2 linked regions of the Homo sapiens genome follow. The protein of the gene in region 1 purifies or fractionates together with the protein of each later gene. This does not show direct contact. Each region holds a gene or a part of one and is shown in the gene's direction. Other genes may lie near its edges.

Region 1 (3,043 bases):
CCTATCACTCACCGTCACTCCAGGGAGACAGAACACACAGAGAACACATTACACAGGCAGGTTCATTACTAACAGATAAGCAGCGAGTGACAACAGAAACCTACATTTCAATGTGAGCCAGTCCCTCAAGGCTCAGAAAAGCTGCTCGAGACATGTGGAGTCACCCCATATGCAGTGTATCTGGGGGAAATCAAAAAGCAGCCCAGCCTGGGTTTTGTACCCTGGAGCCACAGGAAGCACTCAGCTAAAGCACTGCATGACGTCCTCCTCCAGGAAGAACAGGAAGACAGCCCAGGCTGTTCTGGGATGTTCCTCCTGATCTCAGGACGTTGCTGTCTTAGTCCATTTTTGTTGCTCTAAAGGAACACTTGAGCCTGGGTAACTTCTAAAGACAAGAAATGTGTTTGCCTCACAGTTCTGCAGGCTGTACTGGAAGCATGGCACCAGCATCTATTTCTTGTGACGGCCTCAGGCTGCTCCCACTCTGGCAGAAGGGAAGGAGGGTCTGTCTGTGCAGAGACCACAGAGATCACACGGCAAGAGAGGGACCAAGGGGGAGGGGGAGCGATGGAGCTTCCAAGCTCTTTTAACAACCAGTTCTCCAGGAACTAATAGAGGGGGAACTTGCTAACCCCGTCTCCTTGGAACAGCATTGATCTGTTCATGATGGATCCACCTCCATGACCCAAACAACTCCCAAGAGGCCCAACCTCCCACTCTGGGGGTTACATTTCAATGTGAGGTTTGAAGGGGTCAAACATCTAAACTAAAGCAGTTGTATCCTCAGCACGTTCTATGGTTACTACAACTGAGAAAGCAGGAGGAAGCTAGGTCTCCCGCCATCTGGGTGCTTGTCCTAAAGAGACGTTGTATGTGGTTACCTGTCAATCAAGAAATGTGAGACAATTCATATAGAGGAACTGCTATGATTAGCTTCTTATTGGTGTCTTGTCTTCCTCCAGGTAACTCCAGAAACCTGCACGTTCTGATTGGGACCTCAGTGGTCATCATCCCCTTTGCTATCCTCCTCTTCTTTCTCCTTCATCGCTGGTGTGCCAACAAAAAGAGTAAGTCTCACGAAGCAGAAGCCAGAGAGCTCAGGGCCATGTGGGGAAGCAGGATGGGAGCACTCAGGTGTGTGTTCCTCACAGACTGGATGGTCCCTGGCCCAAGGCAGGAGCCACAGAGGCAGGACTTTCTAGAGAGAGCACCAGACTCCCTGCCTCTGCCTTCAGCTCACAGACCATTGCCTGATTCTGAACCGTATCCTCACATCCCCTGCAGCCACTCACATCCAGGAGAAGGTTCCATGACAGGCAGAAAGTGGGACACAGAATCAATAGGATGGGAACTCAGAGCTATACATGGGATGGATCCTTGAGCTCAGAGAGATAGAATGTCTGAGTCTGCTGTTGGCAACTGAGGGACCTCAGGCACCTATGGCCTCCCCCTGTATGTTGGTATCTGCTTATGAAATGAGGACCCAGAAGTGCCCTCCGAGCTGTTTTGACGACTTCCGTCTTCTACAGATGCTGTTGTAATGGACCAAGAGCCTGCAGGGAACAGAACAGTGAACAGGGAGGTAGGTGCTCCTCCGCCCAGCCTCGTGGCTAGTCTTATTCCCAAAGAGTCCTGGAAAATGTGAGCACCCTCCCTCACTCAGCATTTCCCTCCCTCCAGGACTCTGATGAACAAGACCCTCAGGAGGTGACATACGCACAGTTGAATCACTGCGTTTTCACACAGAGAAAAATCACTCGCCCTTCTCAGAGGCCCAAGACACCCCCAACAGATACCAGCGTGTAACACGGAACTTCCAAATGCTGAGCGCAGATCCAAAGTTGTCTTCTGTCCACTAGCACCACAGTCAGGCCTTGATGGGATCTTCTAGGGAGACAATAGCCCTGTCTCAAAACCGGGTTGCCAGCTCCCATGTACCAGCAGCTGGACTCTGAAGGCGTGAGTCTGCATCTTAGGGCATCGCTCTTCCTCACACCACGAATCTGAACATGCCTCTCTCTTGCTTACAAATGTCTAAGGTCCCCACTGCCTGCTGGAGAGAAAACACACTTGCTTAGCCCACAATTCTCCATTTCACTTGACCCCTGCCCACCTCTCCAACCTAACTGGCTTACTTCCTAGTCTACTTGAGGCTGCGATCACACTGAGGAACTCACAATTCCAAACATATAAGAGGCTCCCTCTTAACACGGCACTTAGATACGTGCTATTCCACCTTTCCTCAGAGTATCTTTCAGCCTTCTGTCAGCAGTAAAACTTATAAATTTTTTTTATAATTTCAATGTAGTTTTCTATTCTTCAAGTAAACATGTCTGCCCTCATGGTTTCTTCAATGGGACTCTTTTCTTGCCTAAGGCTTCCGGTGTTATCATTACCACGTCCACATAACCCCATCTGTTCTCCGCTGGGTTCTCAGCCCTGGACTCTGAGCTTCTGGAAGCATGGTGGAGCCTGAATTGTCTCTGAGACTCCAATTTCCATCCAAAGATGCAGCACATAGGAGGTTCCAAGGATGGTGAATCAGATGAACAAGTGATATTCTTACTCTCTGCAGATCTGGAAAGCTGGCAGAGTCATTCCACGATGAAACATTTGTAGAGTCATAGGCCTTGTTAGTCTCATCTCCACAGGGACACGTATCAACACATCATCTTTCATACTACTATAAATAGACAGTCACTCCTCCATATCTCTGGGGTTTACACATGTTTATTGAATCAGCAATAAATCAAAAATATTTTGAGAAAAAAAATCCCCGAAGTTTCAAAAAGCAAAAAACTATGTTGAATCGACACAAATTGAGTGGCGTGTAGGCTGTGTCAGGAATTATAAGTAATCAAGAGATGATTTCATGTATACAGGAGGATGTGCATGGGTTCTATGCAATTGCTATGCTATTTTTTTTTTTTTTTTGAGACAGTCTCACTCTCTCACCCAGGCTGGAGTGCAGTGGCGTGATCTCAACTCACTGCAACCTCCGCCTTCCAGGTTCAAGCGATTCTCTTCCCTCAGCCTCCCCAGT
Region 2 (3,500 bases), on another chromosome or scaffold:
TGGGCTGGCTTTGTGAGATTTTGCAATTACTTACCTCTGTGGATTTTATTTGTAAAATAAGAAGATTGGATTAGCTGATCTAAAGATGCTTAATTCTTTGAAGAACAAGACCTGTCCTGTGATGACAGAAGGCAAGGTGAGACTAGTGTGTAAGAAATGGAGGTAGAAGCTGGGCATAGTGGCTCACACCTGTAATCCTAGCACTTCGGGAGGCTGAGGCAGGAGGATAGCTTGCATCCAGGAATTCAAGACCAGCATGGGCCAGACCGCGTCTCTACCAAAAAAAAAAAAACACACAAATTAGCTGGCATGGTAGTGTGAGCCTATAGTGCCAGCTATTCAGGAGACTGAGGTGGGAGGATTGCTTGAGCCCAGGAGGCTGCAGTGAGCCAAGAGATCCACTGCTCTCCAGCCTGGGTTACAAAAGTGAGACACTGTCTCAAAAGAAAAAAAAAAAAAAAAGAAATGGAGGTAGGCTGATGTCAGCAAAATATCAGAAAGAACTTAATGAGTAGGCCGGGCCCAGTAGCTCACGCCTGACTCCTGATTGTATGAGCTTATGTTTTAAAATACATTTTCTAGCCAGGCACAGTGGCTCATGCCTGTAATCCAGCACTTTGGGAGGCTGAGGCGGGCGGATCACTTGAGGCCAAGAGTTCGAGACCAGCCTGGCCAACATGGCAAAACACTGTCTCTACTAAAAATACAAAATTTAGCTGGGTGTGGTGGCACACACCTGTAATCCCAACTACTTGGGATGCTGAAACAGGAGAATCGCTTGAGCTGTGAGGTGGAGGTTGCAGTGAGCCGGGATTGCCCACTGTACTCCAGCCTGGGTAGCAGAGCAAGACTCTGTCTCAAAAAAAAAGACTGGGCACAGTGGCTCACGCCTGTAATCCCAGCACTTTGGGAGGCCAAGGTGGGTCGATCACGAGGTCAGGAGATCGAGACCATCCTGGCTAACAGTGAAACCCCGTCTCTACTAAAAAAAAATACAAAAAATTCGCTGGGTGTGCTGGTGTGCGCCTGTAGTCTCAGCTACTCAGGAGGCTGAGGCAGGAGAATTGCTTGAACCTGGAAGGCAGAGGTTGCAGTGAGCCGAGGTCACGCTATCGCACTCCAGCCTGGGTGACGTGAGACTCTAGCTCAAAAAAAAAAAAAAAAAAAAAAACTTAATGAATGGAGTGCTATATCACTGGAGGTACTCAGAGGCAGCAGGACCATCTGCTGAGAGAGGCACTACAGCAGATTGTTACTCTGTTGGGAGGAGTTTATGGCCCTTTCTAAATCCATTTTAGGTAATTATATGGATGTGAATGTAGAATATAAATTGTATGTGATTATAGATATGATTGTATCTTTTGTGTTAAAGATGTAATTTTATCCTTTCAGAGTATATCTGACATTGTGTCTTTTATAGTGTAGGGTAGTCCATTTTAATGCTATTTTAGATCAGTTAATAAGCAAAGTAATGTTGTTTTTTTTTGTTTTTTTTTTTGAGAGTCTTGCTGTGTCGCCCAGGCTGGAGTGCGGTGGCATGATCTCGGCTCAGTGCAAGCTCCGTCTCCCAGGTTCATGCCATTCTCCTGCCTCAGCAGGAGCTGGGACTACAGGCGCCTGCCACCAAGCCCAGCTATTTTTTTTGTATTTTTTTAGTAGAGACAGGGTTTCACTGCATTAGCCAGGATGGTCTCCATCTCCTGACCTCGTGATCCACCCACCTCCCAAAGTGCTGGGATTACAGGTGTGAGCCACCACGCCCGGCCGTAATCTGTCTATTTAAATTGAATAGGCATTTGACATTTGTTTATGCCTTCATTCGTATTTCCTATTTTTTCTTCTATAGGGGGAGGAGTTTTGGCCCACACAATACTAGGAGTTGCATGGAATGAGATTACAGGGCAGATAAAGTTTCTGATTCTAGATCCACATTATACCGGTGCTGAAGACCTGCAAGTTATTTTGGAAAAGGTAAGTATCCATTTAACACAAATTGAGACAAAAGGCAAAGAAGCTAGAAATGAAGGATCACAAACTGGCTGGTAACAGAAAGACAATAAGCTGAGGGCAGAGATCTCCCTGTGTGGAGGCCTTCTGAGGCTGTTGTAAGTAGCCGTCTCTGTATAGGGAATGTGCAAGAACAAAGCACATTGCAAAAGACAAAATTTAGGTTTATAGAAACTTTCTCAGCTATTAAAATTAATAATAGGACACACACTCATAAATATATTCCTTTGGAGATTTTAGAGCTTTCATAAACAAATGTATCAAAGTTTATCAATGTCTTAAAATAGATGAGCAGAATATATAAACTTTTAAAATTTTAGAATTAACCAAAAGATAGCTAAGCAGTATGCTAGACATTATGGAGGCTTGACTAATTTTAATTCATTTACATATAACCTAATCTCATTCTATAAAGGGTTTGAAGTTGATACATATTTAAGAGTATTCTTACTTACAATAGCAGATAAAGGAGGTAAAAATTTGTTAATTCATAGGCAACTAATTCTCACATATGAAAACTCAGTACCAAGTCTTTAGGAGAAAGTATTGTAAAACATAATTAACTTGAATTTTAAGTAACATTTATATTCGCTGCCAAATACATTGAAATTGCAGAGAATACATAACCACCTTTTAAACTATAAACTAAAGATAAAATGTTTTAATATGTTAAAGAGTTTTAAGCCAGGCGTGGTGGCTCACACCTGTAATCCCAGCACTTTGGGAGGCTGAGGTGGGCAGATCACCTGAGATCAGGAATTCGAGACCAGCCTGGCCAACATGGTGAAACCCCATCTCTACTAAAAATGCAAAAATAAGCCAGGTGTGGTGGTGGGCGCCTATAATCTTGGCTATTTGGGAGGCTGAGGCAGGGGAATCACTTGAACCCGGGAGGCAGAGGTTGCAGTGAGCTGAGATGGCGCCATTGCACCCCAGCCTGGGCAACAGGAGTGAAATTCCAGCTCAAAAAAAAGTTTTTAATGTGTGTAGTCCAACTCTGTTATATCCTCAGTTTACTGAAGTCTTTTGTTTATGATAAGGGTATAAACACTAATAGGATAGAAATGTGTTGTTACAGTTTTAAGTGTTTTTTTTTCCTTTTCTCTTTCACAGCATTTGGAATTTGAAGTCTATAAAAGGTTTTTTGACTGGTGCATGTATCTTACTGAATATAGTAGCAATATTCTTGTTCTGTAGCAAGGTGTTCATTCCATTCAGTATTTATTAAAGTACCTAACAAGTGCCAGGCACTGTCCTAAGCACTAGTATTACACGAGGTTTTTCGGGAGCTAAAACCTTTAGGGTAGGACAGAGAAGGAGAGTGCAAAAAGGACTCTCGAGAAAAAAAAAATGGTATCTCAGGTGCTTCTACGAGGCTGGTGCTGTGGTGGCCCCTGCCTTGTAGAAACAGTGAAAGCCGCACTGCAGGTAGATCAGTGCGTCCAGAGCTAGGCGAAGAGGTGAGGCTGGAAGGACACACCAAGCTCAGTCAG

What was found. Proteins that work in one complex are often made in the same cells at the same time.
Region 2: the proteins of KIR3DL3 (region 1) and UFSP2 purify together in Homo sapiens (affinity purification with mass spectrometry, with the first as the bait; one large-scale study listed by BioGRID). This does not show direct contact.

What each region holds. Positions count from the first base shown.
Region 1 is NC_000019.10:54,734,291-54,737,333, forward strand, and holds the end of KIR3DL3 (killer cell immunoglobulin-like receptor 3DL3 precursor), read left to right. Parts: intron 1-962; coding exon 963-1,067; intron 1,068-1,529; coding exon 1,530-1,582; intron 1,583-1,680; coding exon 1,681-1,806; 3' UTR 1,807-2,342; downstream 2,343-3,043.
Region 2 is NC_000004.12:185,401,965-185,405,464, reverse strand, and holds part of UFSP2 (ufm1-specific protease 2), read left to right. Parts: intron 1-1,846; coding exon 1,847-1,971; intron 1,972-3,500. UniProt on the Homo sapiens protein: Thiol-dependent isopeptidase that specifically cleaves UFM1, a ubiquitin-like modifier protein, from conjugated proteins, such as CD274/PD-L1, CYB5R3, DDRGK1, MRE11, RPL26/uL24, TRIP4 and RPL26/uL24.